Regions from separate parts of the Homo sapiens genome. Here all the other regions are linked to region 5. Evidence: fine-mapped expression QTL. A gene starts in region 5. Each other region holds a variant in brackets. All regions are shown on one strand. Distances are from middle to middle.

Region 1 (6,492 bases), 65 kb before region 5:
GGGAGGAGCTTCAGGCCAAGGGCAGCAACGTGAAGAGCATGAGCATCTCCTTAACACAAATGTCTCTGCTTCCTTCAGCCCAAAGCCCCTTTTCCAGAAAGACCTTATGCCTACTGCTCTTTTTCTTAATTAGAAAGTGTCTGTAGCAAGGAGTGTGTGCCCACACCAACCAGGAAAACTGCTAACCAGCATTTAAAAGCTAGTTTGAGTGGGGACTGGAGTCCGCTCACTCCTTGCAAGCCAAGCCAGCCCAGGGGCTTGGCGAGGCAGTTTCTTCTCGGCTTTGCCCTGGGTTTGAATCCCAGCTCTACCACTTCCTCCCTGAGCCATCTCAGGGTCTCAGGGTTTCCTCATCTATAAAGGAAGGGAAATAATTCTTGCCTCATTTGGTGTTTGTAAAGATTGAAAGGGGACATCACTTCTGAAGGCTTTAACACAAAGCCAGGTACATACATATTCAAAAGCAAGTCCTTCTAGGGATGGACTTGACTGAGTTCCAAACTCATCTCAGCCAACTCATGCAGTGATTCTTGGATCGTGTATAAAGCTCCCGACACACAGTAGGTCTGTGCAGAGTAAGAATGATCAGTAACCAGATACCACCAATGAATTGTTAGCCAGCTGAGGGATTTCGTGCTGGGCCCTCCAATATTCAGGTTCCCCCATCCAACAGTCAAACTCTTCATAACTTAGAGCTCTGGATTCCAGGTCAAAGCTCCTGATCCTTCATTAGAAGAAGCAGCGAGAAGATGTCCCCACAGATTGATGATGGGGGTCACTGGTGCACACAGTGTAGTGTAAACAAGTCAGCTCTCTGCATCTCAGACGCCTCACCAGAGTGTTGGGCTCACTGCAGACTCCAGCTCTGGGACCCCTTGCATCAACCACGCTAAATCTGTCTGCTTGAGTCCAGGAACCACTAAACAGACGGGAAGCATGGACTTCTTCCTGGCTCTGTGGGGGACTCCAAGAGTTGGCCTGCCCTTGACTTGGAGCCCCCATATCTACAGGAGTCAGGCTATGCATGGGGGCCTGGACTCCTTTTTAGGAAGAACCACGGGGCTCAGTTCAACAGGGTCATTCACATTTAGGACAGAGAAGACAAGGGGCTGGCTAGGGTCAAAGAGTGAGTCACTAGGGACAAACTTGAAACCAGATTTCAAGCCTGCTGAGTCCTAGGCTGGGGTACTGTCCCTGCATGCAGCTTTGTCCTGAGGCCAGGAATGGTTTCACCAAGCCAGGGAACCCTTGACAGAACAGTACTTAGTGCTGAAGCATACAAGTAGACCTGAGTTCAAATCCCCAATCTCCCACTTCCAGGCTAAGGCGCCTCAGACAAACTGATTTATTCTCTGAGCCTGTTTGTTTTATCTGTAAAAGAGGGTATGATAGCTTACCTCCCAGGGTGGCTAGGAGGATTCAGAGAGCTATTGGAGATGAGTTATGTAAAACGATGTAGCAAGTTCCCGGCACGTGACAAGCATGCACTATGGAGAAACAGTCATCATGGCCACCCCTCTGTGAGCTATCTTCTTATACACACACACACACACACACAAACACACACACATGCACACACACACCCACTCACACACACAACACATACTGAAAATATTACTAAAAGGGAAGAAAATTAAAATCTCAAGACAACAATCTGGGACTTTGTTCCATCCCTGCATACTTCTGGTCTCTATGGCACTGGATGAGGGGAGAAGGGAAGGGGGAAGAGAAGAAGAACAGAACCCTTAAGGGCACAGGAATTCACCCAGAAGTGAACAAGAAAAGGGACTGGGTTTCCCACTGCAGTCCTGCTTCACCTCTTCCAACTGGCCCCTGCTGGTCACCTAGCAACAAGCATCTCTCCCGAATCCTTCATAAATCACCAAGAGTACCAGCTGCTCTCGCCTAGAGATCCACACCTCACACATCCCCCGGGGTCGTCTCCCAGGGCCAGAACCATGGACAGCACTGGTGAGAGCCTCAATCACAAGGTACTCAGGTGTTCAGATGACTGGGCATTCTGTGTGGAGAGGAGGGCCAGCGGGCTTGGGCTGGGCAGGACCAGGGCAAAGGAGTGGGGCCACAACTCTGCCCTGAGAAGCAAAAAGGGATAAAGGCCACTCTGAACCATCCAGACAGGGTTCAGAGTTGTCTGAGATCACTTTTCAGAAGGCACAGCTGTAAGAACCCAGAGTTCTTTAATCCCAGGGACTAATGGCTTGGGGAAAGCCAGGGTCAAGCAGAGAAAAGAATTGGAGAGGAATCAGTGGCTGATCCTGAACTGTGTGCTGAACATTTCATACATGTCATTTCAATCTTAAAACCCTGTAAGGTTTTCAGGACTGTGAGCCCCATTTTACCAACACAGCAGTTGAAACCCATGGAAGAGACGTCCTTTGCCCATGGTCAGAGAGAAATTGCAGCAGCCAGCCCTGGGATTGGACTTCAGATCTGACCCCAGCACACTGTAATTTCAGGGTTGGTGCCAGAAGTCCATAAGACAGAGCCTGCTCAAAGACAGGACTTAGCAGAGAGCCTGGCACCCAGAGGGCCATTGCCACATGAAAAACACCTCATGGACCAGCGCACACAGCAGTCGGCTCAGCTCCTTTCCATCCTCCTCCCAAGACTTCAGGATCTTGCCTCTGCTTCTCAGTAGCCCTGGGCTCTGGGCTGCCTGGTGAGTCATTGGGCCCCTCCAAGGGTGCCCCCAGGACCCAGGGTCTCTGACAGGCCATGAGACACACTCGGTCTACCCCATGAGGCCTCCATGCTGCTCTGGAAGCCCTGAGCTCCCTCTGAGTGCCATGGGCTCTTTATGACTGATCCAGTGCTCTTCCAAGTGGTGGGGCTCTGCACACAGCTGGCAGCGCAGCTGACAGCTCCACAGAAAGGCAGCGATGGGAACGGAAGTATTCCTTAAATTCCTGCCCCTTACCGAGGTGGCTAGCACAGCAGGATGGGTGCAGGACATGGGGTGGCCTACCAGCATGGAGGCTTCCTGCCCAAGACAGCTGGGACCTGGGTTGCAGGGTCTGCCCAAGCTCCCCCAATTTGCAGCCCTCATAGCTCTTCCTGCTTCATCTGTCCACTGCTTCACAGTCCCTGTGGTCTGGCTTGCAGCCCCCTAAACATGCCTGCCTCTTTCCCACCTTCATGTCATCCCTTGTCTTAGCTCTTATCCCCTTCCCCATCAACCTGGAATGCCTGCTCCACCTTTCTTCCTCTAATTCAGCAGCGCTCAGTGCTGGCTGCACAGCAGAATTACCAGCAGAGATTCCAATTTGATAGGTCTGGGTGGCCCCAGGCATCAGGTTTTTTGGAAGCCCCCAGGTGGATTCTACCAAACAAACTTGAGAACCTCTGGTGGAAGAGCTGCTTCTTATGATACCTCAGCTCAGAGGTCACCTCTTCTAGGAAGCTTTCACTAGCCATCATCTCATCACTTAGAAAACCAGCCTCAGCTATATGCCCTTCTTCTGGGCTCCCAGGGCCCCTAGTACCTCCAAACATCAAAGTCCTTATCACACCTTGTTACAAGTGTGTCTTGCAAAGACTGTGAGCAACTCCAGAGCCAGGACTGTGTTTGTTCATTTCTGTATCCCTAGCACCCAGCACAGGACCTGCTACGAAATAGCAAATTGATGAATGAATGAA[T/G]GAAGGAACCAAGGTGCTAGTGTTCCGCCCACTGATGTCTCTTCTCCTTCCTCAAATAAGTCTCCAAGATTGCTAAGATGTCCAAAGTCCCTCATCACAGTCCGGCTTCCCAGCCTTTGCCTATGCAGGATCAGAGGCCTGGGGTGCCCCCAACATCAACCTGGGACCTCTCAGATTGCTCTAATTGCTCCAGCAAGCCCCCAAGATTAACCACACAGACCCCAACAATTCTCCTTGATTCAGAATCCCCTGGTCACTTTCCCTCCACACTTTCCCCTACACCTGGTCTTGGAGGATCAGACAGGACTGACCTCACAGGTTAGACTTAGGAGCAAACCTGGGTAAGAGCCTTGAGTTCCTGCACCAATTTCCTGTGTGATCACAGGCCAGTCACTTAACCTCTCTGTGCCTCAGAGTTTCCATGCACAAAACAGGGGAAATAATAGTACCCTCCTCACAGAGTTGTTGTAAGGGTCAAATGAGTTGATAGATCTAAAGCCCTAAAGTAGTGCCGGGTACAGAGTAAGAGCTATTACCGAAGTGTCTACTCCCTGCTCTTATCTACCAACTGGGAGAAGGTCAACCACTGGGCTTGAGCCTTTCCAGCCTGACACATTATTTTACTCCATCCTCTGGCCCAAGTCCCCACCCATGGGCAAGGCCCCCAGAAAGGGACAGTGACAGGCTCTGGGTCTGAGTCTGGTGATGTTTCTGTGAACACGGCCGTATGCCCAGGCCACCACCCAGCCATGACCAGGGCTGAAGGATAGTCCCAAAGGACAGATCTCAGAAGTCAGACCCTCCCCACCAGGACTGGGAGAGGAGCCTTTTTCAGCCCCTCAGTTGTTTTTCCCGCTCACTTTCAGCCCCTCTTTCCACTCAATGAAGCCCAGTTTGATTCCCTCCACTCTCTCCCCCCTCCCCTTAAACAGACAGGAGCATCAAAGCACAAAAAACACTGAAATTGCCAAATGCAGTTTCTCTCCAGAGACGACAAATTTGCTGCAATTTGTATTTCCAAACAGGAGCTGCAGCTCCTGAGCTGCTCCCAGGCAGGCTCCCCACCCCTCACCGACCATCTCCTCCTGAGCATGGCACTCCTCCTCCCCTCCTCTTCCCTCTACCGCTGCAGAAGAGGGGGCACTCACCCCATCTTCGCCTAGGGTCTGGGGTGCTACAGTGGGGAGGAATTAAAGCAAGGGTGGGAGAGAGAAAACAGAAACAGCCACATCTGTCTGCCAACATCAGGCAGAGCACCCATAAGGAGTCCTTGAACCAGCTTCCAAGCCTAGCTCTGCCTGTAATTAACAATAAAAAGAACAGAGCCCGCCTCACTTTGCAAGCTATGCCCATCTCATCATTTAGAACACCTCACTCCTTGCACCACCCTAAGATTTAGGTGGTCTTCCCCCCATTTTACCTGAGGGGGGATGTGGGACTGGATCAAAGTCATGCAGTTACTAGGATATGAGGTTGACCTCTAGCCTCCCTGACCCCCAAGCTCAGATTCTCCCCAATCCCACCCCATGACCTTGGGCACCTCTTCAGATCTCAGTTTTCTCATGTGCATGTGCAAATTGAAGAGATTGGACCAGTGTTCACTAATTTTTTTTTAATCTATGCCCCTTAAACAGGGTATGATGTTAATTTTATCTGTCAACTTGACTGAGCCACAGGGTCCCCATATACTTGATCAAATGTTATTCTGGGTGCTTTTGTGAGGGCATTTTTGGATGAGATTAACATTTAAACCAGTGGAATGGGTAAAGCGACTGCCCTCCCCTGTGTGAGTGGGCCTCATGCAATCTGTTGAAGGCCTGAATTGAACAGAAAGGCTGACCCTCACTGAAGTAAGGAGAGAGAATCCCTCCTGTCTGACTGCCTTTGAATCGGGACATGGGCTATTTTCTGCCTTCGGAATTCAGGGAAATATTGGCTCTTCCTGGGTCTCAAGCCTGCAGGTCTTTAGACAGGAACTACACCATTGGCTCTCCTGGTTCTCAGACCTTCAGACTTGTACTAGAATTCCACCTTTTGGCTCTCCCAGATCCTCAGTTTTCAAATTCACTCTGAAGATCATGGGACTTGCCTCCATAATTGTGTAGGCCAATTCCTTATAATAAATGTATACAAACACACACACACACGCACATCTGATTGGCTGTACTCCTCTGGAGAACCCTGACCAATACACAGGGACAACATCCAAATCTCATACCCCTTCTATGATCTGTATTATGAAAAACATACAGGGTTTTTGTTTATTTGTCTTCCAAAGGGAAGATTCCTTTCCAATCATTGTTAACATTGAATGTGCTTCGCCATGTGCTGAATCCTCCTTGCCGCAGGAGAGTCAGATGTGCCCCAGTGTCGGGGCAGGGTCTCCAGCGCTCAGCCCACCCCACCACACCTGTTGAGAAGCTCTGGGCTCAGTCTCCTGGGGGCTGTTGTTGCTCACATTCTGTGAAAGGCAGCAGAGCCTAGGAGCACTCCCTCCACAGCAAGAGCCTGGGCAAGGCACTTCTCTCCAAACCTCAATCTCAACCATGGGAATAATAATAGTTCCTGGTGGTGTTGTGAGGATTCAATGTGCAAATACCTGTAACACACTGAGGATGCTGCAGGAAGTGCTCAAGAAATGTTCGTTGTCATTATATTCTATGGAGTTTTAATCCCTTGAGGAGTCATCATTTGCCTGCCCCCTCCCAACCACACCCCCCACCCCCACTCATCCCAGGAAACTCCTGGAGCTACTGCCGTCCCCTTCGCTGGGTCCTGGGAAATCACTTTGTGGACATGTCTGATTACTGCAGCCTCTGAATGATAGGGATCATC
Region 2 (6,492 bases), 49 kb after region 5:
GGCCTCCCTCTTCTGAACCTCTACATGCTGCTGGCTGGCATCAAGCAGAGGTCATCACTGGGTGCTGAACAGGTCAGCTCCCTAGGGCAATGTGAGCAAAGTGTTGTGGCTCATCCTCGATCCTTTATGCCCTTTTGGCAAGATTCCTTTCTCTTCTCAGTCACAGCAGATGGACACATAATCTTGTTCTCCCAGGGGCTGCATTCTCAGTAGTCTTTTCCCTGCTCCTTGGGCGCCTGGTCAGGGAGGTTTGTACAAGCCTGCGCACACACAGCAGTCTGTCACGAGGCTGGGCCAACCTTTTTTTTTTTTTTAAACAGACTCTTGCTCTGTCATTCAGGCTGGAGTGCAGTGGTGCAATCTCAGCTCACTGCAACCTCTGCTTCCCGGGTTCACAAGCAATTCTCATGCCTCAGCCTCCCAAGTGGCTAAGACTTAACAAACAGGCACACACCATCACTCGCAGCTAAGTTTTTGTATTTTTAGTAGAGACCACGTTTCGCCATGTTGTCCAGACTGGTCTCAAACTCCTGGCCTCGAGTCATCCACGCACCTCAGCCTCCCAAAGTGCTGGGATTACAGGCGTGAGCCATGGCGCCCAGCCTGGGCCAACCTTTTCTGAGCCATAGTCCAGCTGTACTACAGCTGTATCCAAAAGGTACCATGTATCTCCCAGGGTAACCTGAAGACCTAACTGGGCATACTAACTGTCCTCAGATTTCAGTTCTTTAAGGCCCATCTCTTCTAGATCAGTGTAAATATCTGAACTCACTTGGTGCTTCAACCCAATTGGTCTTGGGATTCATCCTTTACCTACCCAGCTCTCATTCTCTTCTAGGTTGTTCCATGGCCTCTTCCATATATTACATTTGTGGTCTTGAGCAAGTTAGTTAGTTACAACAACACTGAGCATCTTGACCAAGGTCACTTGGCCCAACCACAGGCTAATCCCAGGCCATGTGCACATCCCAGGATTAGCTTGTGGTTTATCAGTTGTCAATTTTTTTTTTTTTTTAATACAGGGTCTCACTCTGTCACCCTGGCTGGAGTGCGGTGGCGATCAGAGCTCACTGCAGCTTCAATCTCCTGGCTCAAGTGATCCTCCCACCTCAGCCTTCCAAGTAGTTGGGACTACCCACATGCACCACCATGCACGGCTAATTTTTTGGTTTTTTTGGGTTTTTTGTTTGTGTTTTTTTTTGTTTTGTTTTTTGAGACAGAGTCTCGCTCTTTCGCCCAGGCCGGACTGCAGTGGCGCAATCTTGGCTCACTGCAAGCTCCGCCTCCCGGGTTCACACCATTCTCCTGCCTCAGCCTCCCGAGTAGCTGGGACTACAGGCACCCGCCACCACGCCTGGCTAATTTTTTGTATTTTTAGTAGAGACGGGGTTTCACCGTGTTAGCCAGGGTGGTCTCGATCTCCTGACCTCGTGATCTGCCCGCCTCAGCCTCCCAAAGTGCTGGGATTACAGGCGTGAGCCACCGCACCCGGCCCTTGTTTGTTTTTTTAAGTAGAGACAAGGTCTCACTACATTGCCCAGGTTGGTCTCAAACTCCTGAGCTCAAGCAGTCTTCCCACCTTGGCCTCCTAAAGTGTGGAAATTATAGCATGAACCACTGTCAGGCTCTTTTGTCAGTCCTATCAACCTCTAACATCCTCGCACCAGACAGGACAGGTGTCTGTATTGAAACTTTATTACAAAATTATAAAGCAGAGCTCTGTAACAAAATAATACACATTTGGGTTTGCTTTAACCTCCAAGTAAGTCTGAGAAAATCTTAATAAAAGCCACTTGAAGTAACAATTCACATCCAAGAGATTTCCACAAATTTATACAATGTATATTGAGCACTAGTTCCTGTACAGCTTATTCTTATTAGTTTGGATCCAACTATTCCAATGTATTATGAACCAGTCAGCTATCTGTCTTTTGAAACAAGTCTTAACTGAAATCTCAGAGTAATCAGCAAAAGCTACGGAATAATTCTAAGAATTAGATGTTTCCATATCATTAAAACCAAGGATCCATGAGGGGCAGAAGGGAGGATTCAAAGATTTAAAAAAAATCAAATTTTAGACCTTGGTTAAATATTAACTGGAATGGGATCTTGGAACTCCCAACTTTAATTTGGTGTAATAAAAATGATGCAAAAAAAAAAAAAATCAGGGTTGTTTGACACCTTTTTTCCTAAAGGGAAACCTTCACCAAAAGGGGATAAAAGATTTAAAGGCAAAATGAGTAAACAACCTCAGTTTTAATTCTTACTGAGGTTACTAACCAGCTATCAGTATATTATTTTCGATTTGTGTCTAGGAGGGAAACTGAAGAGGAGGTAAGGCTTCAGCAGAGAAAGCAGGTTGTAAGTAGAGAGCCAGCTTCTGCCCTTAAGTTACTGCTAGATCTTAGCTGAATTGCACATACATAGACCTGTTTTACAGAGGAACTGAGTAGCTGAATGAATGATCCTTTGCTAATTGGTAGGCATTGTAAACTATAGTATTTACTGCCCATGACAAAAGTGGAAAGGGATGTCTTCATGAGCAAATCTGATTCCCCCAACTCCTGCAAAGGCTGTGGTTCAGAATCAAATCATCCAGGACTTTGTATAACATTGAGGTAAGTGGCCCAGTGTTCAGTTGACTAGTTTATGCAGTTATTTCATTCCTCCAAAGGGGTTTAGTGGTTGGTGATGGAAGAAAGCATAAATATGTCTGTACCAATGTAATAAGTCCCTTTAGAGGTTTCCCTCTGCCATCCAGAGTCATGATTGGTTCTAGTCTCAGATTTTTCAGCTGCATGGGAGGGGTAAGGGGTGGGAGGTGTCTGCCAAGGCGTTTAGGGTTTGCATAGTTCATCCATTGGTAATGGGAAAACACTCTGCTTTCCTGATCATGTGTTTTGTGCTTGGCCACGCTTCTGCAGCAAACTCTTAAGTCCTCCAGCTCCTCTAGGGGTGTAAAGACTGTGAGGGCTCAAATACATCACCTACTCATTGCATGGTCCTTCCTAAAGAGCCTAGAAAATGGTTTCTCCTGCTGGGTGTGGTGGCTCACGCCTGTAATCCCAGCACTTTGGGAAGCTGAGGCGGGCGGATCATAAGGTCAAGAGTTCAAGACCAGCCTGGTGAACATGGTAAAACCCCGTCTCTACTAAAAATACAAAAATTAGCCTGGTGTGGTGGTGGGCGCCTATAATCCCAGCTACTCTGGAGGCTAAGGCAGGAGAATAGCTTGAACCTGGGAGGTGGAGGTTGCAGTAAGCCAAGACTGTACCACTGCACTCCAGCCTGGGCAACAGAGTGAGACTCAAAAAAAAAAAAAAAATGCTTTCTCCCTGACCTGCCCCCAAAAATCAGTGGGCTAGGAAAGGGAATGAAAGTAGGGTCTCCTCACTCCCCACCAACCTGGGAAATAAAGACTTGAACTGTCGGCTTACAACAGAATCCAGTCTCATTCAGTACCTCCTGAAAGCTCTTAAGTGCTCTGTCTTAACATTTGCTCTCCAGGAACTTCAACAGCAGTCTGGCCAGAGAAGAGCACAGGCTCTTTGCCTAAATCTATTTCTTCAATGAAACCAAATTTAAAACTACCATGGATAAGGGAGGGATTTCATTTTCAGCGAAAAGTGGCTTAAGACTTCTAGTTGGGAAAAGGATCAGAAGCCAAGCCAAAATTAAGGAGAAGGCCACTGCCTCCACCCATTGCTTCCCCTTTCCGCATAAACTAAGGATGGTGCAAATCAGGTCCCAAGAGAAGCAGCAGCAGGGATTATGCACGCACTATCCCTTGCAGACAGAAACAAATTTCCCAGCAGTTTGGGAGCCTGATGTTTTGTTGGCTCCCAGAGTCAGGTCAGGAGACCAACAGCTTCCAATCCCAGCATTTAATGAAGTGGCTTTTAACAACTTTGAAATTTTTCTATAGCATTTGTATTTCATTTCTCACCAAAGATAAGTTTACTGGTCTAAAATCTGTCCTAAGGACCACTAT[C/T]GGTCTGGTAAACTAACATTTTTGGTCCAAAGAAACAAATGGATTTAGGCAATGTAGCAAGAGACTTTAGCAAAGATAGTTAAAGCACAGAAAGCCGGAGAGACCAGAAATTTAAATCCGAATGTGCTGGGGAGGAGGACTTCTGATTGATGAAACACATGGGCAAGCATCTCCCATATGGGGTGGGGATGGGTTGGGTACAGGAGGAGGGGTGAAACTGTCTAGGTTCAGGGAGGAAGACAGGACCCAAGTTCTGGAAAGTTCTCTGTTCATCAGTTACCATCATCACTCCAAGATCACTGAACCAAGAACATACCCATGTGATTTATACAAGTTCCCACTGGCCTTGGGCTTTGCCAGCCAAGAGGTACACCCCTGGGAAGACAGGCATGCTCAGGGGTGACATGGCATCTTGCTTGACCTGGTTTTGGGAACCCTGCAATATTTCTACTAGCTTGCTCCTCTGCAAGCTGGCCAACCCTGAGCCCAGACACCCCAGGCTATTTCCCTGTAAGGCACTGAAGAAACCGATGCAAGCTCTCAGGACCGGAAGACATGCACAGCTCGGATTACATACTGCCGGCAGATGGGACATTCATTCATGCGCTTGCCACACTTGGTACAGGTTACCATGTGGCCACACTCCAGAAGAACACAGTCAATGGGTGAGTCCATGCAGATCTTACACAGGTTCTCCTCCAAGCCTGATGGTACTGCTCCCCCTGTACAAACACACAGGGCAGAAAAAAAGGGGCAGAGGAGTGAGGAGAATGTCTTAAGTGTATAGGGGTGACTGGGGGAGGGAGGTGGGAGATAACAGGTACATTGTAAACAAAGTCTCAGTGCACATGCTTCCCTCAAATAGAGCTCCTCCGAGGAAACATTTCCTCAATAACCAACTCTGGTTACTTGTTTAATCCACACTTCATCCCCTCCAACAGGTAAAGATTTGAAAAGTACACAGCACTTGTGGATCAGACACATCCCAGAACATGAGAACTAAGGCAAAGTTCTCAAAGCTTAAAAGAAATAATTTTCAGACTGTTGGGGCTGTAATATAGTGAGTGTGTGAGTGGCACGTAGGGACTCATTATCCCCTGAGGCAGAACAGGCTAAAAAGATAAAACTGGTTCAGAAAAGTTTAGATAGAAATGGAACTGTGATGAATGGTTCATTAAGGATCACAAGGCTTTATCTATAAACATATCCTCCATTTAATAAAGTCAGGGATCATGGGGGACCCCTCTGCTATCTCACAAACTACTCCCAGGTTTCCTGAGGAAACTTCCTGGTGGAGAAACTTGGCAGAGATTACTGCTCCCTCTTTCTACCCCCACAAAACTTTTTTATACCCCCATGACTGCTTATCACATTGGATTAAAATTTTGAGTTTGCCTACTTACTCCCAGAGTAGACTATGAGCTCTTTAATTCAACATATTCAATCAATTTTTACAATTATATGCTTAGCATTTATTCCATGCTCCAAGGTTAGATATTCATCTTTGAAGCCCCCAATGCCAGTTATATGGTAGGTACTCTAAATGTCTGATGAATGAACATCTTCCCAAGGGAATGACAACATCCCACATTTACTGAATGCTTACCGTGTGCCAGGCAGGGTCCTGAAAGCTTTGCATGTGTTAACTCACTGAAGCCTCACAAAAACTATAAAGTAGGACCTCTTGTTATTTTCATTTTATAGATGAGGCCAACTGGGGCAAAAAAGTTAAGTGGCTTGCCCAAGGGCACAAAGCTGCTAAGTCGAGGAGCCAGGATTCAAACCCAGGCAGGCTGGCCCCACAGCTCCTGCTCTAGAATGGCCTTCTGCCTAACTGCCCTAAGAGTAGAAACTATCCAGACAGTATCAACTGCTGAGTGCACAGGGTTCTCAATAAATGCTAACTGGCTTGTGTCACTAGCAGAATATAGTGGGCATGACCAGTATCCTAGTAGAGCTGACCCAAACAGAAAAAATAATGTTCAAAAGCCCAGCCATCTCCAATATGTCTTAAATTGTAGCCTGAAGTAGGTACCCATAAAAAGGAACTGATCTCACAGAAGTCACCTCTACCATCTGGGGGTTGGCCAACCCATAGAGGAATTCTCCCTTATTGCATCTATACTTTCTCTTTTCTGGACTATTAAAAAGTCAAGAAATACTTCCCCCTAGGAGGTAGGCTGGGTGTGAAAGGGAGTGAAACCCATTTGCCTCTTTTGAGGTGCTGTTGGTCCTAACAGAGGTTTGGAGACTATACAAATACCTAAGATGAATGGGAATAATTTATAATTTTCAGTTACTCATTCTCTCAGAAGTAACAACAAACACATTAACTCAGTTGTCAGCATTCTCCCAGGGAATCAGAAAAAGAAAGGAAGCACCAAGTAGATCAGCCTGATCTTGGTACCGGTGATGCTGGGGGGTTGGAGGGTGGAGGTGGGTCTAGAACTCCAAATGGTTTTGGGGAATTGAGAAAAGCTCAACTGTTTTTTATGTCTGAT
Region 3 (6,492 bases), 91 kb before region 5:
CTCACATGCTCTGAGGGCTCCAGCTCCCTCCATGTGCCCCCCTTTGTTATTTCTCCTGATCCCATGAAGATATAGCATTTGTCACTGTTTCATTAGGAGCCACGGTGCCCCATGTTATTTATGAGTTTGCTATTTATTGAAAATTGTATTTTTGAGGGGGATAAAGGGGGAGCTGAAGTTTATCACAAAGAAGCCTTGGCAAGAAAATTAGTGACATTTCAAAGTATCCAAATCTCTGCTCCTGTAAAGACTGAATGAGTTCACAGCCACCAGATTTCAAAGCATTACTGGAAGTCCTGTTCCAGGTGGGGGGCTGACTAGGGGCTCTTTGATGCCTTGATTGTCCTTAGGAAAAGATGATGGTTTTATAATCTCCTCCTAGATCTGGCCTGCATCCCTTTTTCTTTAAAAAAAAACAAAGTCTGTTTTTATTCAAAGTCATATATGCACAAGGTTAAAAACAGTTTCCTGTTAAAATACTTCTTACTCCCTGTTCTGTCCCCCCTAGACAGCCACATCTAACTTTTTTAAATGTCTTTTCTTATATTTACCTCCATTTTTCTAAATAATATGCTTCTACTGATATTTCTTGATTCATCAATTTTAGACACAATCTATTGACTTACTGCTAGAATAGACAAGGATTTATCTCACTCACACCACCTCCATCCCTCCTGCCATATCTCTATTTTTAGTTCTTCTATTGGTTACTTTTGTGATCTTCCATCCTCTACAGATGCACTTTTTAAAGAGAATTTGTACATTGTACAAAAAGAATATTTCTACCCCCATCCTTCCCTTCACCTCACCTCTCCCACTTCTACCTCCTAATGCTGTCTGTCATCTACACTTCTACTTTTACACTGTAAAAACTGATAATATCTACATCTACTCTGTAACCACAATAGTTCTTTCAGATTGATTCCAAGAGTTGAAAATCACTGAAAAGTATTTCTATTATTGTGCCTAGGTAAAGACTGTTCACTACAGAGCCAAGTAGTGTACTATAATCACAGTTTCATTTCAGATACAAATGTGTATGTGTGTGTTTATACGTTTTGAGTTGTCTTTCTTTATTCTTTAGTCCTAATTGTCTTTGTCACATTTCCAATTTTTTAAAAGTCTTTATAAAGCCCATTCTACCGAGTTCCCCTTTTATTTAGGGACCACCACCACCCCTGCCTGCTGGAGCACTCAGTTCTCTTGCTTCAATCTGGACTGGTTGTTCTTTATGCTTGTGCACAGCTCTTCTGATTTCTATGTATAGCTTTTTGCATTCCCAGTCTTCCCCTATTTTGTTTACTCCCTTACTTATTAAAAGACATCCTCAAGTTGCTTCCTTAAAAAGGATTTATGGGAGACAGTCTATGGGTTCTTGCAATTTGAATAATGGGTTGGTGGGATGTAGAAAGCTTAGGTTGAAAATCATTTCTTTCAGAATGTGAAAGTGTCTGATGTTGTTGATGACAGTCTGGTGCAGGTCTGATTCTTGTTCCTCTGAAAGTGACCTGGCTTCCTTCTTGGAAATCTTTAGAATATTCTCTTCTCCTGTGGCTCTTTTGACTCACAATGATGTGTGAATTGGTGTGGGCTCTTTTCATTTATTGTGTTGGATGCTTAAGGGGCCCTTTATTTCTTATTTTAAGCTGGAACTTACAGGTAGTTTTGTAGCTATTGTAACAAATTTTGTAACATATTATAAACTACACAAATACATATCAAGATATAAACATTTCCAGGACCCCAATGAGTCCCTTTATGTCTCCTCCTAGTTGATAACTTTCCAAGAGTAGCCATTGTTCTGACCTCTATGACCATAGATTAGTTTTTCCTTTTTTGAGTTTCATCTAAATGGACTTTTACAGTATGTATTCTTTTTTTGTTTGACTTCTTTTGCCTAACATTTCTCTGACATTCACCCATATTGTTCCATGTAGAGGTTTTTAGTTCTTTTTCATTACTGCATAATATTTTGTTGTGTGTACAATTTCTTTAAACAAAGTTGATGGACATTTGGAATTGTCCCAAGTTTTTTAAAAACTATGTTTAGGGGGTAAAATTGCAGGCCTCTTGCATACATATGTTATGTTGTGGTGAAGTTTGAGCTTTTTGTGTACCCATCACCCAAATAGTGAACATTGTACCCAATATGTAATTTTTCAACCCTCATCTCCCTCCCATCCTTTCACCTTCTATATTTTATCCAATGTCTGTTATGCCACCCTGTATGTCCACGTGTACCCATTGTTTAGTTCCCCCTTGTAAGTGAGAGCATGCAGTATTTGACTTTCTGTTTCTGAATTATTTCACTTAGTGAAATTGTCCCCAGTTTTGAGCTATTATAAACAGTGCTTCTACAACATTCTTGTACATGTCTTTTGGTGGAAATAAGTATTCATTTCACTTGAGTGTATATCTATAGATAGAATGGTTGGATCACAGGGTAAGCATATATTTAGCTTTTGTAGATCCTGCCAAACAGCTTTTCAAAGTGATTGTACAAACCTAAACTACCACCAACAATGTTTGAGAGTTTCAGTTGCTCCACATTCTTGCCAGTATTTTCAGACCTTTATTTTTGCAATTCTAGTAGGGATGTAATGGTATTTAATTGTGGTTTTAATTAGCATTTCCATGATGACTAATAATATTGAGCACTTTTTAATATGTTTATTGACCACTCTGTATTTCTTTTATTGACTTTCGTTGTAAAGTGCCTATTCAAATCCTTTGTTTATCTTAAAAGTAAAAATTTCTTCCTTTATGAATGAATTTATGTGGTTTCCTTATAGACTGTAGATACAATTCCTTTTTTGGATATATGTGAATAATATGTGTGTGTGTGTGTGTGTGTGTGTGTGTGTGTGTGTATACACATATACCTAAAAAAGGAATTTGATATATATCCTATATATATCAAATTCATAATACATATCAAGATATAAGCATTTCCAGGACCCCAGTGAGTCCCTTCATATCTCCTCCCAGTTGATAACTTTAAAAAAGTAGCCACTTGGGAAATTACCTCATATATATATATGTATATAAAATCAAATATTTTTCCATTTTTGGCTTGCCTTTTCACTATCTTAATATGGTCTCTTACTGAAGAGGAGTTCTTGATTTTAACAGGGTTGGCCGGGTGCGGTGGCTCATGCCTATAATCCCAGCACTTTGGGAGGCTGAGGCGGGTGGATCACTTGAGATCAGGAGTTCAAGACCAGCCTGGCCAACATGGTGAAACCCTGTCCTTACTAAAAATACACAAATTAGCAGGGCATAGTGGCACACGTCTGTAATCTCAGCTACTCAGGAGGCAAAAGAATCGCTTGAACCTGGGAGGCAGAGGTTGCAGTGAGCCAAGATCATGCCACTGCACTCCAGCCTGGGTGACAGGGCAACTCTGTCTCAAAACAAAACAAAACAAAACAAAAATTAATAGGGTCTTATTTAATGATATTTTCTTTTATAATTAATGGGTTTTCTAATTCTGTTTAAGAAGCCTTTGCCCATCTCAAAGACATGAAGCAATTCTTCTGGGGGGTGGGGCAGGTTTCCTTTGGAAACTTTATTGCTTTACTTTTTGCATTTATGTCTATGATCCATCCTGAATTAATTTTTGTGTATAGTATGATATCAGAACTAAGATTCATTTCTTTTTCACATGGATCTCCAATTGGCCCAGTCTTGACAGACCCTTTCAGTGTGTAGATTCAGGTTATTCCACGTAGGCAATTATTTGTATTGTTTTTTAATAATCTTTACCCCTTTGTTTTCTCTGTTTTGGAGTTCCTATTATTCTGATGTTAGAATTCTTGGAATATTCCTCTGGGTCTCTTTTCAACACACACACACATACACACACACACACATATTCTCTCTGTCTCTTTCTCTCTACCCTCT[CCA/C]CACACACACACACACACACACACATATGCCCTGTGTGAAAACAGGACCCTGAAACTCCCTCTCTGTACTAGATACTACTATGGGGAAATAAAGGAATTGGTGCAGTGTTATTCCCTCATATCCATGACTCCCTCCTGCCATACCCACACTTACCACTGTAGCTGATAAATGAGATGGGGGGAAAATGGCTGGGGGAGAGGGAAGGTGAATGATAAGAAGGACAGGCCCAAGAGCTGTGTCCTGGACCAGAATTGTGGGATAGAGTTAAAACCAATAAAACTAGCATCTTTGCACCAAAGCCTCCCACCTCAACCCCCAGCTCAGCCCTGTGTCTTCTCAATGCCTCCTGGGAGCAAAATAATGTAAAATATCCTTCCAAGTAGCTAATCTGCACTACAAAGAGAAGTTGAGGGGAAAGACTTAGGCTACAGGGAAGGATTCAAATTGAAAATGCTCAGGGGGGCCCAATAATAAAGACAATAATTCAGCTCCTTACTGAGCAAACCCAGAACAAAGAGGAGAAATTGCCGAGCTCCTACCTGAGTGGGATGGAGGGACAGGGAGCAGTGAAACGGACAGGTTGGCAGACAGGACTTGAACCACAAATGCCCCTTTGAGTTTCTCTGGAGAAACTTAGAGGTCTGTAGTTTTAATAAACCCTGTTATGGGGCCAAAACCAAACTTTGCCCTGGCTGCTTAAGGCTCCCAAGTGGAGCTGTAAATATTCCTGCCACAGGGTAAGCTTGACCAGAGTCCTGGATTCAGTGGGAGTCTTCCTGCACCTCCAAGATTTGCCCGTCCAAAGAAAGGAGTGGGCACTAACGTTGGAATCAACAGTTACACGTCAGGAAGTATGCTAGCTACTCTGTTCCTTATTGCATACAATCTCCAATGGCCCAGTGATAATGGTAATAATAAAATAGTGAGCACTTACTGAGAGCTCATTATATACTAGAGGCTGTGCTTTATCTCATTGTCCCTCACAACAAAACTGAGAGGTAGAACCTATTAATAACCCCCACTTTTCCTTGGCAACAGCTTTGTGAAGATACAATTCACATACTGCAGAATTCGCCCAGTGAAGTGCACAATTTGATGGTTTTTATTCTATTCACAGAGTTGTGTGACTTATCGCCACAATTTTAGAACATTTACATCACGCCAAGAAAGAAACTCCTCTCCCCTTTAGTTATCATTTCACCCCAATCCTCTCATCCACCCAGCTCTAGACAACCACAAATCTACTTTCTATCTCAGTAGATTTTCCTATTCTGCACATTTCACGTAAGTGGAATTATACAATATGTGGTCTTTTGCAACTGGCTTCTTTCACTCAGCATTAAGTTTTCAGGGTTCAACCATGTTATAGTATATATTAGTACTTCATGCTTTTTATGGCCAAATAATATTCCATTGTATGGATATACCACATTTTGCTTACCCATTTCATAGCTGATGGACATTTGGGTTGTTTCTATCTTTTGACTATTGTGAATAAATGCTGCTGTGAATGTTTGTGTACACATTTTTGTGTAGATGTATGTTTTCATTATTTTGTGGGTATATTCGTAGGAGCAGAATTGCTGGGTCATATGGAAACTCTGCGTTTAACTTTTGAGGAACTTCCAGACAAAATGGCTCACCACTTTATATTCTCCTATAGTGCATGAGGGTTCCAATTGCTCCACATTCTCCTCAACACTTGTTATTATCTATCTTTTTTATATAGTCATCCCACCAGATATAAAGTGATAAAGTGGTATCTCATTGTGGTTTTGATTTGCATTTCCGTAAGGGGAATGATATTAAGCATCTTTTCATTTGCTTATTGGCCATCTGTGTGCCTTATTTGAAGAAGTGTCTATTAAGATTCTCTGCTCTTTTCTTTCTTCTTTTGAGACAAGGTCTCACTCTGTTGCCCAGGCTGGAGTGCAATAGCACAATATCGGCTCACTTCAACCTCCACCTACCAGGTTCAAGAGATTCTTCTGCCTCAGCCTGCCAAGTGGCTGAGATTACAGGCACGTGCCACTGTGCCTGGCTAATTTTTGTATTTTTAGTAGAGACAGGGTTTCACCATGTTGGCCAAGCTGGTCTTGAACTCCTGACCTCAGGTTATCTGCCTGCCTCGGCCTCCTAAAATGCTGGGATTACAGGTGTCAGCCACTATGCCCAGCCATTTGCCCATTTTTAAATTGAGTTATTTGTCCCTTTATTATTGAGTTGCAAGAGTTCTTTATATATTCTAAATACAAGTTCTTTATCAGATATATGATTTAAAATATTTTCTCCCATTCAGTGGGTTATTTTTTCACTTCCTTGCTAGTATCTTATGAAGCACAAAAGTTTTAATTTTGATGAAGTCCAATGTATCTATTTTTTCTTTTGTTATTTGTAATAACCCCATTTTATATATGAAAAAAGTGAGGCAGAGCAATTTAGCAACTTGCCTGAGAACATATAATAATAATGGACAGAGCCAAGATTCAAACCCAGGTCTGCAGACCCCAAAGCTTCCTTTGAGGGCATGGAGAAGTCCCCATGAGCAAGGACTGTGTTTCCTGTGATCACGACTGAACTTCTCCT
Region 4 (6,492 bases), 830 kb before region 5:
CATAAAAATCCTCAGTGTTCCCCATGTCATAGATCACAGGAAATGTCCTGTTCACCCACACATCAGGACTTCTATGTATGTCATCTCTGCTTGTAGTGCCTTTCCTTCCCTATTCTGGAAAAACGTCTTCCCTTCCCTTCCAGAGACACCTCCTCCACAAAGCCTTACCTATACCCCAGGACAGACTCATGTCCTTCTTCCTCCGTGTCCCCATTGAGACTTGCATGCCCTCACCACAGTGCTACTGACACACAACAGCACTGTATGCCCAGTGTCTGCCCCCCGCTTCACAGGCCAGCATCCGCTGAAATGGCCAGGCCTTGTCATTAGTTTATCCCAGGCACCCAGCACAGGTCCTGGCACACAATGTGTATACGTGTGCGCATGTGTGTGTGGTTTATATTGTTTTTATTTCTAATTAACTTGGGTGCAGATGATGAAACATCATAATCTTGATCAGAAGACAACTGAAGGTCTTAATGCAGTCTTGGGGACAGCACCAATTCCACAGAACCCACTCTAGCCAGTGTAATCAGAAAAGTAATTTGTTAGAGGATGTTAGGTAGCTCATGGAATCTCCAGGAGACCAGAGAACCAGTCTCAGAAGGGAATAGACTGAAACGATACCCAAATGACAGTGCCAGACTGTCCCATGGGATCTCTGTGGCTACCATCTCTGGGCTGGAGCACTTCAGATCCTCTCAGTGTATTTTAATAAATGAGTAAGACGATCTGTAGGAATGATTCCTATCTTATAAAGGAGGAAGTTGAGGTGTAACATGATTATATGAATTGCCCACAGCCCCACAAGTAGTAGGTTGTGGGATTGTGTTCTCATGCCTAGATGTCTCCACAATACCACAGCCGCTAAGACATGGTTTGCGGGTGAGCTGGAGCTTCTGAAACTGAGGATCCAGGTACGAGCTCAGATACCAAATCCTGAGCTCCAGAGAGCAGCCAGAGGGCAGGGAGGTAACTGTGGAACACAGGAGGCCATGCCCCCCATCCACGTCACTCCCCTTGGTCACACGGCTATCCCACATGTCACAGCCTCCACTGGAGCGGAGTGGGACTGTGGACTAAGCTTTCTGCTCAATGAAGTGTGAATGCAAGTAAAGTGGGTTACCTTGGGTAGGCACATTCAAGAGCTGGTGTGTCTCCTCCCCTCATCTCATGGCAAGACATAGAGGACCCAGTGGAGGACTGAAGGCTCCAGGGGAAGACAGAGCCATTATACAGGAAGAGGCTTGGCCCTGAGCTGTCATGAGGAGGACTGCCTATCAAAGCCTTGATTGGATTGTGATGTAAGCAGAAAGGAAGTTTATTGTGACTAAAGGCTACACCAGTGAGACTTAGGCATCATCTGTGACAGTTATTAGCCCACTCCACTGCCTCATACTCAAAACCAAGCAGCCAAGCCTCATTATCCCACAGCCTGGGGTGGTGGAGGAAAGTACGGAATAAATAAAGCACCCCAGAGGTGAGATCTATGCCTGCTTTTCCCAGACTCCACCAGCCTGCCTTTCCTGCATGGGGCTGTTTAGCCTCAGCCTTCTGAACATGCCAAGGACCTCAGTCCTGTACGGCAACATCAGGGAGAACACTGAGAGATGTTCCCTCTTCTCCACTTCTCTCTCAGCCTCCCTAGGGAGTTGGCTGATCCATTACCTCTCATCCACTGTCAGGACAGAGCTACCAACTCTTGGTCAGCAGTACCACCGGCCTGCTGCTTAGAGCACAGATGAGGTTCTCTGACTCTGAACGAAGAGGCAAGGCAGGCACAGGCAGGGGATGGAGGTGGATGGGACCACACAGTCTTCTCACAATTTAGTGGGCACATGAGTCACCTGGGGACCTTGTTAAGCTGCAGATTCCGTTTCTGCAGAGCTGAGCGGGGCCTGAGGCGCTGCATTTCTACCCAGCTTCCAGGTGATGCTGATGCTGCTAGTGCGTGAACCATGTGCTGAGTAGCCCGGGCACGTCCCTGGAAAATACACATCCCTGACAGGGAGCACAAGCCTCTTCCCAGATTATTCCACCCTCCAACTCAGGACAGAGGGGTGCCCTTGAAGAGTGTCTAAGAAATTAAGGTGGGAGGGCCCATGGATAAGCAATGAAGCAGTCTGCCTGTAGGCTCCCAGTAAGCGTTTGCATTTGGCAGAATCCACAGCTGCAGGTAACAGTCACACAACTCAAATCAGCTTCAGTAAGAGGGGGTTTGTTTTTCGTTATGAGTAAGTTTTCTATGTGAAAGGCCAGGGGGTCAAAGGAGGCAGTATGAGCATCGGGGCTTTTCAAACTAGAAATGAGGACTTCCTATCACAAGATCTGGGTCTGCCTCTGCATCTCCCTGCCTCCCTGCCTTGCCCAGTCTGTCTCTAACTCTCATGATTGCTGATCTCTCCTTAGCTTCATTCTGAACTCTATAAAGCAAAAAACAAGATGGTCTTGGGTTTACCCTCCATCTATGACATTCTAGAATTTGTTCTGAGTCCGTAAAACACCAGGCTCCAGACAATGTGGCCCCCACAGCCAGAGTTTCAATTTAGTTGTGGATGCATCCCCTTTCTCTTCCCAGACCATCAGCCTCTTCCCATTTCCAAACCAGTCATGCAGCAATCAATTTTTCTCTACGTATAGGTAGCAGAATCGAGAGGGAAGGCATGGAGTGCAGGGACCCCTCTTCTCAGCCTGGACACACACTCTCTCCCTCAGTGGGGCAGCTGGGGGCTTCAGCTCCCCTGCTCTTCCTGCTGCAGGACGGATGCAACAGCTCCAGGGAGGAGTCCGATGCCACCTGAGCCCTCCACAAGAAGGGAGGGCTGAACTCAAGAATACAAGAAACTGTCCCATGCAAGGAAAAGAATATGATAAAAGAGGAGGCTGTACAAAGAGCAAATTCAGGGATCCCTGGACTGGCACTGGCTCAGAGCCAACCTGGCTTTCTCTATGCTGAGCA[T/A]CCCGGGCCTTGGGCAAAGGAGACTGGGCCTGCTAGATCCATGTGTGAGCTCTACCTTATTCTAGCTGTGTGACTGTGGGGAAGTTACTCAACCTCCCTGAATCTCAGAGAGGCAAGGAGAGCACACTGACAGCCACAAATATATAATGATGATGATACCACATCCCACGGGTGCCTAACACCTTGTACAATCTTAATAAATGTTTGAGAAAAGGAGAATGAAGAAAAGAAGGAGGTAGAGGATGAGAAAAAGGGAATCAAATGGGGAGTAAAAGGCCCAGGTCATGGGTGTGAATAACTAACACATCAGAAGCTGTGAGGGTTTATTGGGTAAAGGGAGGCAAAGTAGTCTTATCAAAGTGGCCCGTGGGATTCCACTCTGCCACACCTTGTCCCTATTGAGAAGTTCAGCTCACTGAATTCCCAGGGACCCCAGGTGCAGGGAGCCTCATAGGACCTGGCAAAGCAGGTGAAGCTGTTCTTGTAATGCATCAAGGGAACCATGAACCTCCCTGGTCCCACTGTGCCTGCCTTGGGCCACCCGCTGCAGTGTGGTTCACTTTCCCCTGCAAACCACACTTATTCAATGTGATAGTAGAGGAGGAGGGGCCTGTTTATGTCACTGCATGACCTGAGGGATGTCACTTAACTTCCAAGAGCCTCAGTTTCCTCATCCTTTCAGTGGAGAAGGGAAAAAGTCCCTGCTCTGCCTACCCCACATTTATGGGAGTAGTTCTAGCACTAGAACTGTGCGCTAGATAAGCAAGTTATTATTGTTACTGCCTCCAGCACTCTCTTTAAATGAAGCATTTCTTGATGCCGTGTTACTACATGCAAAAAAGTCAGCATTGGCTTTTTTCCCCTTTTCTACAGAAAGTTTGGGGCTGGAGGAAGAATGAGGTTGTGTCAGCAGAGGGGGTAGTCTCGGTCTAGCTCAGCTCCAGCTGCACATCAGAGCCTCCTGGGGAGCTTTAAAAGTTGCCAGATGCCCCAGCGCCACCATCAGAAATTCTGATTTAATCCACCTGTGGTTGGGGTTTCGGCTAGTTATTTTTCATATCAACAAGTGGTTTCTTATATTGAGAACTCCTGGGCTCCACAGCAGAGGGAGTGAACATGAATACACCGAAGGAAGAGAACACTCTAAAGATCAGTGTGCAGAGTGATGCCTGACCCCCTACCCTCGAGAGCACGGGCTCATGAACTATGAGAATAAAAAGCGTATGAATCTAGTTTTTAATAGCTTACATCTACTAAATACCTATTACACGTCAAGCACTATGCTTAGCATGTGATGTCCTTTATCCCATTTAATCCTCACAACAGCCTAATGAGGTGGGGACTAGGATCACCCCACGTACAGGTGTGGAAACTGGCAGAGATGACTTTATATGGTGGAACCAGCATCCAAGCCCCACTCTGCCTCACTCTGAGGCCAAACTCTCCACTTGTACAGCATAACAAGCCTTGGAATACAATTTCTTTTCCTGTAAAATGTAAGAATTCTGGGGAATTATTGTCTGTCAGAATCAACTTTGGGAATCCTGGTAGGACATGACCGCATTTGATATACACACACATACCACAGGGTAGGAACCTCTTCCACACTCTTAAAGGGCCATGTCCCATGTTATACCTGGAACTAATAATTCCCAAAATTATTCTCTAGAGTGTTAAAAGGTTCTTGGCTAAGAATAAACATCACTGCCTATAGTACCCCCTCATGGAGACTCACAGTACCTGTCAACCACAGCAAAGGTGATGGATGAGAAGTCCTGCCCTGAGGAAATCTAAGTAGTTCTATTTCACCAAGATCTTTCTCAAGCTTCTTTGTCTACAGAAGCCTTTTATAATGGAATACCTAAAACAGGGCATACTAGTAGCTGCTTCCAATCTTCTTGGATCCCCAGATCAAAGCTTCCTTAAAATCTAGAAGACGGGGCATCCTATTATCAATGAACCAAGTACAGAACAAAGGCTAAAGCTATTGTCACCCTCCAGACATACCATGTCCTGCCTCTCAAGGGGGTCCACTGAGCTGGGAGGGATGCACCTGAACCAGCAAGGAGCTGGCCCAGTGGAGCAGGAAGTACTGTCATCCAACAGCCAGGTGAGTCCAATTAGAGAACGATAAAGCCACCATGGAAACTTGCACCTTGCCATTTACTTTAAGGCTATTGCTCTGCACTCTTCAGGCTATCTGTGGGGTTTAGGAGTTAATATTCATTTGCACATCATGAAAGGACTAAATTAGAGACATGAAGAAAGACAGAATGCTCTGACTGAGCCTGTCACACACTTTTCAAGGCGAGATCATTAGAGGCAGTCACTGCCACCCATGACTTCACCCAGCAAAGCTCCTTAAACCCTTACCCTGTGCAGGCTCCAAAGATAATGCAGTGAATCAGATTCAACCACTGCTTTCCAGGTGCTGAAATCAGATTCAACTACTGCTTTCCTCCTCATGGCTTACGAGGAGATGCAACAGTTATGATTTTGAATCCGTATAAATGGGGATATGGGCAAGGGCTCAAAGGAGCCTGGAGAACACAGAACCTATATCTAACTAGTCCCAGTGCAACACACATTTACTGGACATCATCTATGTCCCAGGTGTTGTCTGGACACACAGGGAAAGAGACAAGAAAGATATAGTCCCTGTTGAAAGACAAAGGTGTCTTTGGTCTTATAAGCTTCAATGCCCACACCTTTCCTCAAACAGAGTAAAGCATTTCCTCTTCCAAACTCTGGAATTCCCTTCCATGATGCTTCTCACACCATAATGAATCTGTTAGGATGCGTTTTCCCATCTGGGCAGCAAGCTCCCCAAGGGCTGGGCCCTGCATTACCCATGTTTGCATAACTAGTGCATCCCTTAGCAACTGCCTAGAAGAGAGCAGATGCTCAACAAATGCTTTTTGAAATGAAAAGATGGGTTTCAGGGGAAGGGAAGCTTATACATGAAATTATTATACGGCCACTCTGATGCCTGCCCTTAGGTAAAAAGCACCAAGGCATTTATTCAATGGACAGAGAACAAGTATTTAAGGAATGAGTACAGCGAGTAGGGAGAGATCGAGAAAGCCTTCGCGGAAAAAGCTGCATTGGAGATGGACATTAGCAGATGAGCAGACTTTCAACAAACCAATGCTAAGGGAGAGAAAAAGGAGGAATTCTGAGAATGAATAGTAGGAACAAAGCTGAGGGGCCAGTGGGGAAAGAAAGCCTTCGGGAAAGAGTGAATTGTATATTACGGCAGAGTTAGGCTTTGCACCATGAAGAATTGGAAACTGAGCCTCGAAATGCAGATTGGCAAGACAATAGAGAGCCATTGATGGACTGGGACAAAGTAGTGACATATTGAGAGCTGTGTTTCAGACAGGGCCATTTGGTCATGGGAATAATGGGGATGGAAGAGAGAGAGGAGCTGGGGAGGAATCAATTAGAAATAACCATTCTGAGTAGGCCATTGTATTCCCTAAATAAACTGCCAGCCCCCCAAGCTCCACTGCCTAGGCCCCAGAAGAGTCATT
Region 5 (6,492 bases):
AAATTAACTGTCTAAAACTCAACCATTTTACTAGTTAAAAAAATAATTTGCCATTCAAAATAACATATAAACTGTGAAATTCTAATACCTCAGAAATGTACAGGTCAGCTTGTTTTAATAACTCTCCAATAATTAGAACATTTGAAGTAGTACCATCTCCTGTGACGTCATCCTGAGCTGTTGCTACTTTTGCTATCAAGGAAGCTGTTGGATGTTGAATTTGCTGGAAAAAGCAAGCAACAGATTTAAAAAGACAGGATGAGATAAGGAAGTAGGTCACCAAAAGCAAGATAACCTAGGGGTCAGTAGCAAAATTAAAAAATGAAATAAGCTTCATTCTACAAGTTTACAAGTTTTGTATTATCAATACCTAAATGTCAAGTCCAAAATTTTAAAAGTGACAGGTAATGAGGCCTGAACATTTCATAAAAGTCTTTGCTTCAGAATGCAATGACATTTCTAAAATAAGATTAAATCATTCAATCTCAAAATGAATACATGTATTAAACTTGCAAAGGATATTTTTATTTTTCCATAATTACAAAGAACATAAGGCAGTGCCCTTAAAAGATATTATTGATTTATAAGTATGCCTAAGTATACAAAGTATGTATAAGTATACAAAGACTTGGAAACAGCCAAAAAAAAAAACTTTTTTTTTTTTTTTTTTTGAGACAGGGTTTCACTCTGCCACTCAGGCTGGAGTGCAATGGCACAATCTCATTCACTGCAGCCTTGGCCTCCTGGGCTCAAGTGATCCTCTCACCTCAGCCTCCAGAGTAGCTGGGACTATAGGCGTATGTCACCACACTGAGCAAAATTTTTTTTTTTTTTTTTTTTTGTAGAGACGGTTTTCACCATGTTGCCCAGCCTGGTCTTGAACTCCTGGGCTCAAGCAATTTGGCCACCTCAGCCTCCCAAAGTGTTGGGATTACAGGAGTGAGCTACCACACCCGGCCAAAAAAATTTTTTTATTGAGGTCTAATTCAACAGTCTTCAGCATATCTCAAGACTGCAGTATTTAGCTCACAGCCTTGGCTTAAAGATACACAAGTTCTACTATGCTTCTAATTAAGGCTTATTAAGGTTTATTAAAGTCAGCAGCATCAGCTCACCATCTCATCGAGCAGCACATTGCCATCTTTGGTGAGTTTGATGTCACCTGCACCAGAAACAAGCCTGTTCAGAGAAGAATGATATTAACTTCATGTGGTAGGAAGACATTCCCAGTGCTTGCCACTCCATTATCCTTAATAGAGGGAACTGGGCTCGGAAAACTTCCACTGTACCATGGGAATATGCCATGGTAATTACCACCATTTGCAGCTCACAGAATCATTTCTCCCCAGATGGACAGATTATGGAGATTTCATTCCAAATGGACTATTTACAGGTTTAAAGATAAAAGCACTTGATGAGTTACGAACTGTGGTTTGGTCAAAGAATACTTGGAAGTCTACAAAGCACAAATTCGCAAATTTCCTGCAGGTTTTAATTTTGGTGAATGTTTTCATTCATTCAGTCACTCAACTTAGTTTCCCTCATCCCTGCATTTATTAGATCACCAAGTTCTATCAATTCTACTACCTAAATATCTCTTGAATCTGCCACCTTCTCTCCATCTCCACTGTTATCATCTCTACTTTGGATGGCATCCGGATATCTCCAAACTTAAATATACCCTCCACACATTTTTCTTTCTAAAAGGCAACGTGATTCAGTCAGTTCCCTGATCAAAAGTCCTCCAATGATTTTTATGTTTTCCATCATTTTCAAGTTAAAATCCAAACACAGCAATGACATACTTGACCTTTCCCAATATCTTCCCTGCCTCATCTACTTTTCCACAAGCAAATCTTCTGGTTCCCTTAATATACCATGTTTTGTTTCGTTTCTGTTGGATTTGCACCATTGGTCTTTCTTATTCCTGAAATTACTTTGCCCAGGCCTTTACTCCCTCTTCCAACTAGTGAAGTCTTATTCTTCTTTCAAGACTGATCAAACATGTTACTTAAGATGCTTTTCCTTCTGCCATCAGTCCCTTTCTTCAGCATAATTATATGCATCTATATATAATTAGCACATCCTACTCTACCACATCCGTCTCTACCACATCTCCTTAAGAACAGAAACCGTTATCTTGATCATTTCTGTGTCCCAACAACTGGTACCTAAGTGACTTATTTTACCATTAATATTATTTTGTTCATTACTATGAGGATGTGTCTCTCCTCTTATACCCTTTTGCCCTCACTGGTCTCTTTTCCTCACTCTTGTCTATAGAAAAGGGTGCTTAATATATACTGAAAAGATGAATAGATCTGAACAACCATAGACACGGGGTATTCAAGTAGAACTTGGATTTGACCCCATGCCTTCCTGGCTCCAAAGCCTGTGTCCTCTCCACTACAATACATTGCCATACAAAAAACAAAACTACTTGTTGAATTTATGGACCAAGGGTATACAGTCTTAAGGAGCAGAGGAGTTAAATGCTTTGTTTCCAATGAGACACTAAATTAACTGACTTTCTAACTGCATATGAACCTTGACGACAAGTCGGGGGTCGGGGAAGCGCCACAGCTTCACTCCCGGGGCCCTCTACTAGGGGAGGCTTTTCTCCTCCACCTGCACCAGGCGAGAAATACCCCCAGAGCAGGGATGAGAATGAGGGAAATCAAGCTCGCAAGAACATCCACAGCGCTACGCGGACGCCTGCCTCAGAGGGCGACAGGACACCAACGGGCCCCTAGCCGCGTAATGGCCGCTCCAACCGCTGTCTCACATTTTCATGGTGCCTTTAGGACCCAAGTTGGTCCGCAGCACATCCTGCAGCCCTCGGGCGGCGCATATATTGACAGCCAAAGCTGCCCGGGCCCGCGCCACCTCAGCCTTGGAGTTGACGGCCTTTATCGCAGCCATAGCCTAACCGTTCAGAGGGAGAAAAAAAAAAAGCCTTAGTCGCGATTCTGAGCAAAAACGGCAATGCGACGCCACGCTCTCTTGAGCCTCGGCCAATCATCGCCCTTACAGGAAGTGACGTTATCATGCCTCGCCCGACGGAAACCAGAATCGTTTTGGGTCTGGTCGCCAAGATGGCGTCCTCCGCCTCCGCCCGGACTCCGGCAGGGAAGCGAGTGATAAATCAGGAAGAATTGCGGCGGTTAATGAAGGAGAAGCAGCGTCTGAGCACCAGTCGGAAACGGATAGAATCTCCATTCGCGAAGTACAACCGTTTGGGGCAGCTGAGTTGTGCCCTGTGTAACACTCCGGTTAAGAGCGAGCTCCTGTGGCAGACTCACGTCCTGGGAAAGCAGCACCGAGAGAAAGTGGCCGAGCTGAAAGGCGCGAAGGAAGCCAGCCAGGGTTCGTCCGCCAGTTCAGCGCCTCATTCCGTCAAGAGGAAAGCGCCGGACGCAGACGACCAAGATGTCAAGAGAGCGAAGGCCACCTTGGTGCCTCAGGTACAGCCCTCCACATCTGCGTGGACCACCAACTTTGACAAAATAGGAAAGGAGTTCATTAGAGCGACTCCCAGTAAGCCTTCAGGACTCAGTTTACTCCCCGATTATGAAGATGAGGAGGAGGAGGAAGAGGAGGAGGAAGGAGATGGAGAAAGAAAAAGGGGGGACGCCAGCAAGCCGCTCTCCGACGCACAGGGCAAGGAGCACTCAGTTTCCTCTTCACGGGAGGTAACAAGTAGTGTGCTGCCAAACGATTTCTTTAGTACTAATCCTCCCAAGGCCCCCATAATTCCTCATTCAGGGTCAATTGAGAAAGCAGAAATACATGAAAAAGTGGTGGAAAGGAGAGAAAACACCGCGGAAGCGTTACCGGAAGGTTTTTTTGACGACCCTGAGGTAGATGCAAGAGTACGAAAGGTTGATGCTCCAAAAGATCAGATGGACAAAGAGTGGGACGAATTCCAAAAAGCCATGAGGCAGGTCAACACTATTTCCGAAGCCATAGTTGCCGAAGAGGATGAGGAGGGACGGTTGGACCGCCAGATTGGGGAGATCGATGAGCAGATAGAGTGTTACCGACGGGTGGAAAAGCTACGGAATCGCCAGGATGAAATAAAAAATAAACTTAAAGAAATCCTGACCATAAAAGAACTGCAGAAAAAGGAAGAAGAGAATGCTGACAGCGATGATGAGGGGGAACTACAGGATTTGTTGTCTCAGGATTGGAGGGTGAAAGGGGCATTGTTATAGGGTTTTAAAGACCCAAGGTTTCTAACAGCCTCTGCTGTTGTATAAAAAGTGCTGTCTCTCAGTAGTATAGCGGTTACTTCATGCCTCAAGATTTGGGTACCTGGATTGCTAAACTGGATTGTTGAGATAAAATGAGCCAGTGAGCTACAGCACTTTGGAAAATTTGTGTAACATGTTTTTGAGGTAAAGTTGTTTTTGAAATTTCTGAAGTGTTATATACCAAAATGCCAACATTTCCACGACAGACTTAACTGTATAATTTCGTTGTAAAATCTGTAAGTTGTAAATATTGTACATAGTTAAATCTGTATTCTGTTTTGAATTTTTTTAATTAATAGAAAGACCAACCGGCAAACTTTCAGATGAATGCTTACTGTGGTATTTGGAATGTATGTATCTTCTGAACCCTACATCAAGTTGAAAAGGTTTGTTTTCTTGTTTCTTTGGTTTTTGTATGGTTTTTTAGAACACTTCATAAACACATAAGTCATTGTAGGTTAATCAGTTCTCTTAGTGTGCTTTATTTTAAAAACATAAGAAAACTATATGCCAAACATGACCAAACCAATGATGGTCAGATGTGGTTGCACATGAGAGTCACCTATGAAGCATTAAAATAATTAAAGTGTCTGAGGCCTTCCCCTTCAATAAATCTGGGATTGGGCCCAGGCAACTGTGTTTTTTAAGCACCCAGGTTATTCTAATATATGCCAGGGTTAGAGAGTAACTGCCCTAAATCCAGAACCCATTTATGTTTTTCAGGTTTTTTCTTTTTCTTTAAATAACACATTCCATAAATTTGCTGTTTCTTGAATGAAGGAAAAAATATTATCTTTTATTTATTTCATCCAGCCTTAAATTTTGTTATTTGGTGGTAAATTAGGGTTCCTTGTTTGCAGGTCCTATCTATTGTAGAAAGAATATTTAAGTTGTCTTTCCAGCAGTAACAATTGGCTCTTGCTGGTCATTGATAGTTTAAATCACTCCTTCCTTTAGAGATTGAGGTACTCAAATAGGAAAAGGGAATTAGCAGTGTTCTGGAGTTGAAATGCATACAGCATATTCAAATAAAAGTGAGCAATAATAATAATAGCTAAGACCTATATATTTCTTAGTATGGGCCAGGCATGGTTCTAAGTGCTTTACATATATTAACTCAATCTAGTTTCCCTAAAGTCTTTTTTTATGGAGAGGAGTACCAAGAGACAAGGTTTGAAAAGCCTTGAATGCTAAGTGAAAATTTTTGATGAAGTTCATATGAAAATGGAGGTTTTGAGCAAAGAATTACATCTGCAAAGAAGTATCATGGGACATTATTAACAGTATATAGAATGGAATGAACACGGAGGGTAGAAGGAAGCTAGGAGCTATTTGAAAACTATATTTTCAAAAGCAAGGTGACAAGACTGATTAGCTGAGGATTGGGAGAAAAGGAATAGAAGTGAAAGCATGTCATAGGAATAGCTAAATTCTTTTGTTGTTTGTTTTTTTTGTTTGTTTGTTTTGAGACGGAGTCTCGGTCTGTCGCCCAGTCTGGAGTGCAGTGGCGGAAACTCGGCTCACTGCAAGCTCCACCTCCCAGGTTCACGCCGTTCTCCTGCTTCAGCCTCGCGAGTAGCCGGGACTACAGGCACCCGCCACCACGCCAAGCTAATTTTTTGTATTTTTTAGTAGAGACGGGGTTTCACCGTGTTAGCCAGGATGGTCTCAATCTCCCGACCTCGTGATCTGCCCACCTCGGCCTCCCAAAGTGCTGGGATTACAGGCGTGAGCCACCACGCCCGGCCAGAATAGCTAAATTTTAGTGACTAGAAGTGGAAGAAGAAAAACAGGAGGGATAAGTATGGGATTCAAGATTTTGTTTGTATTTAGTGTCACTGCCTAAAAGGAGTTATCTAACACTTACTGAACAGTTGCTGTGTACCACAAATTATTATTAATAATTGTCCTGCTGCCTTTGGCAGTCTTCCTCCTTGAGCTGCTAGCTGATCAGTGATAGCAGCTTCTATTTGATGAGACACGGCTTGCTTGCCTCAAATGTGTGAACCCAGTGTTACTCAGAATTTTCCCTTCATTCATCACTATTACTCTAGCAAGAAAGTACAAATATGGGTTTGAATGGTGGGCCCAGTACTGCCTTGGCCAACAATCTAGTGGAGTACTGTCCACTAAAGATAAAATGCGACTGGGTGTGGTGGCTCATGCCTGTAATCCTAGCACTTTGGGAATCCGAGGCAGGTGGATCACTTGAGCTCAGAAGTTCAAGACCAGCCTGGGC

Direction of the effects. Positions count from the first base shown, and alleles are read on the strand shown. Sizes are in standard deviations (SD) of each study's normalised expression. Not every link is listed here.
As copies of C replace CCA in region 3, the expression in monocytes after Pam3CSK4 of the gene that starts at base 2,989 in region 5 goes down (large effect, 0.95 SD a copy in Quach 2016).

What was found. PIP is the estimated chance that this variant, and not a neighbour inherited with it, causes the effect.
Region 1: its variant is fine-mapped to the expression of CCT6B in whole blood (TOPMed, PIP above 0.99).
Region 2: its variant is fine-mapped to the expression of CCT6B in whole blood (TOPMed, PIP 0.96).
Region 3: its variant is fine-mapped to the expression of CCT6B in monocytes after Pam3CSK4 (Quach 2016, PIP 0.95).
Region 4: its variant is fine-mapped to the expression of CCT6B in cerebellar hemisphere (GTEx, PIP 0.96).

The regions. Positions count from the first base shown.
Region 1 is chr17:34,893,655-34,900,146 of GRCh38, forward strand. All of the region lies in intron 2 of LOC105371742 (a long non-coding RNA gene), which reads right to left. Among named protein-coding and RNA genes, the nearest start is that of CCT6B, 65 kb to the right of the region's middle. The variant T/G (reference allele first, on the strand shown) is at 3,658.
Region 2 is chr17:35,007,437-35,013,928 of GRCh38, forward strand. It overlaps LIG3 (DNA ligase 3), which reads left to right. Exons shown (of 20, transcript NM_013975.4): 20 at 1-2,307. RFFL (ring finger and FYVE like domain containing E3 ubiquitin protein ligase) reads right to left here. Exons shown (of 7, transcript NM_001017368.2): 7 at 1-4,713. The coding sequence ends at 4,532. RAD51L3-RFFL (RAD51L3-RFFL readthrough) reads right to left here. Exons shown (of 7, transcript NR_037714.1): 7 at 1,676-4,713. Among named protein-coding and RNA genes, the nearest start is that of LIG3, 30 kb to the left of the region's middle. The variant C/T (reference allele first, on the strand shown) is at 3,992.
Region 3 is chr17:34,867,372-34,873,863 of GRCh38, forward strand. The region is part of intron 2 of LOC105371742 (a long non-coding RNA gene); the gene reads right to left. Among named protein-coding and RNA genes, the nearest start is that of CCT6B, 91 kb to the right of the region's middle. The variant CCA/C (reference allele first, on the strand shown) is at 3,904.
Region 4 is chr17:34,124,931-34,131,422 of GRCh38, forward strand. It overlaps a transcript of ASIC2 not described here. Among named protein-coding and RNA genes, the nearest start is that of LINC01989, 55 kb to the right of the region's middle. RefSeq lists a silencer at 3,484-3,603. The variant T/A (reference allele first, on the strand shown) is at 2,960.
Region 5 is chr17:34,958,472-34,964,963 of GRCh38, forward strand. CCT6B (chaperonin containing TCP1 subunit 6B) reads right to left here and starts at 2,989. Exons shown (of 14, transcript NM_006584.4): 1 at 2,786-2,989; 2 at 1,116-1,179; 3 at 89-223. The coding sequence starts at 2,922. ZNF830 (zinc finger protein 830) reads left to right here and starts at 3,069. Exons shown (of 1, transcript NM_052857.4): 1 at 3,069-5,306. The coding sequence starts at 3,096. The coding sequence ends at 4,214. RefSeq lists a silencer at 2,519-2,813 and enhancers at 2,533-2,582, 2,683-2,902, 2,953-3,032, 3,113-3,362.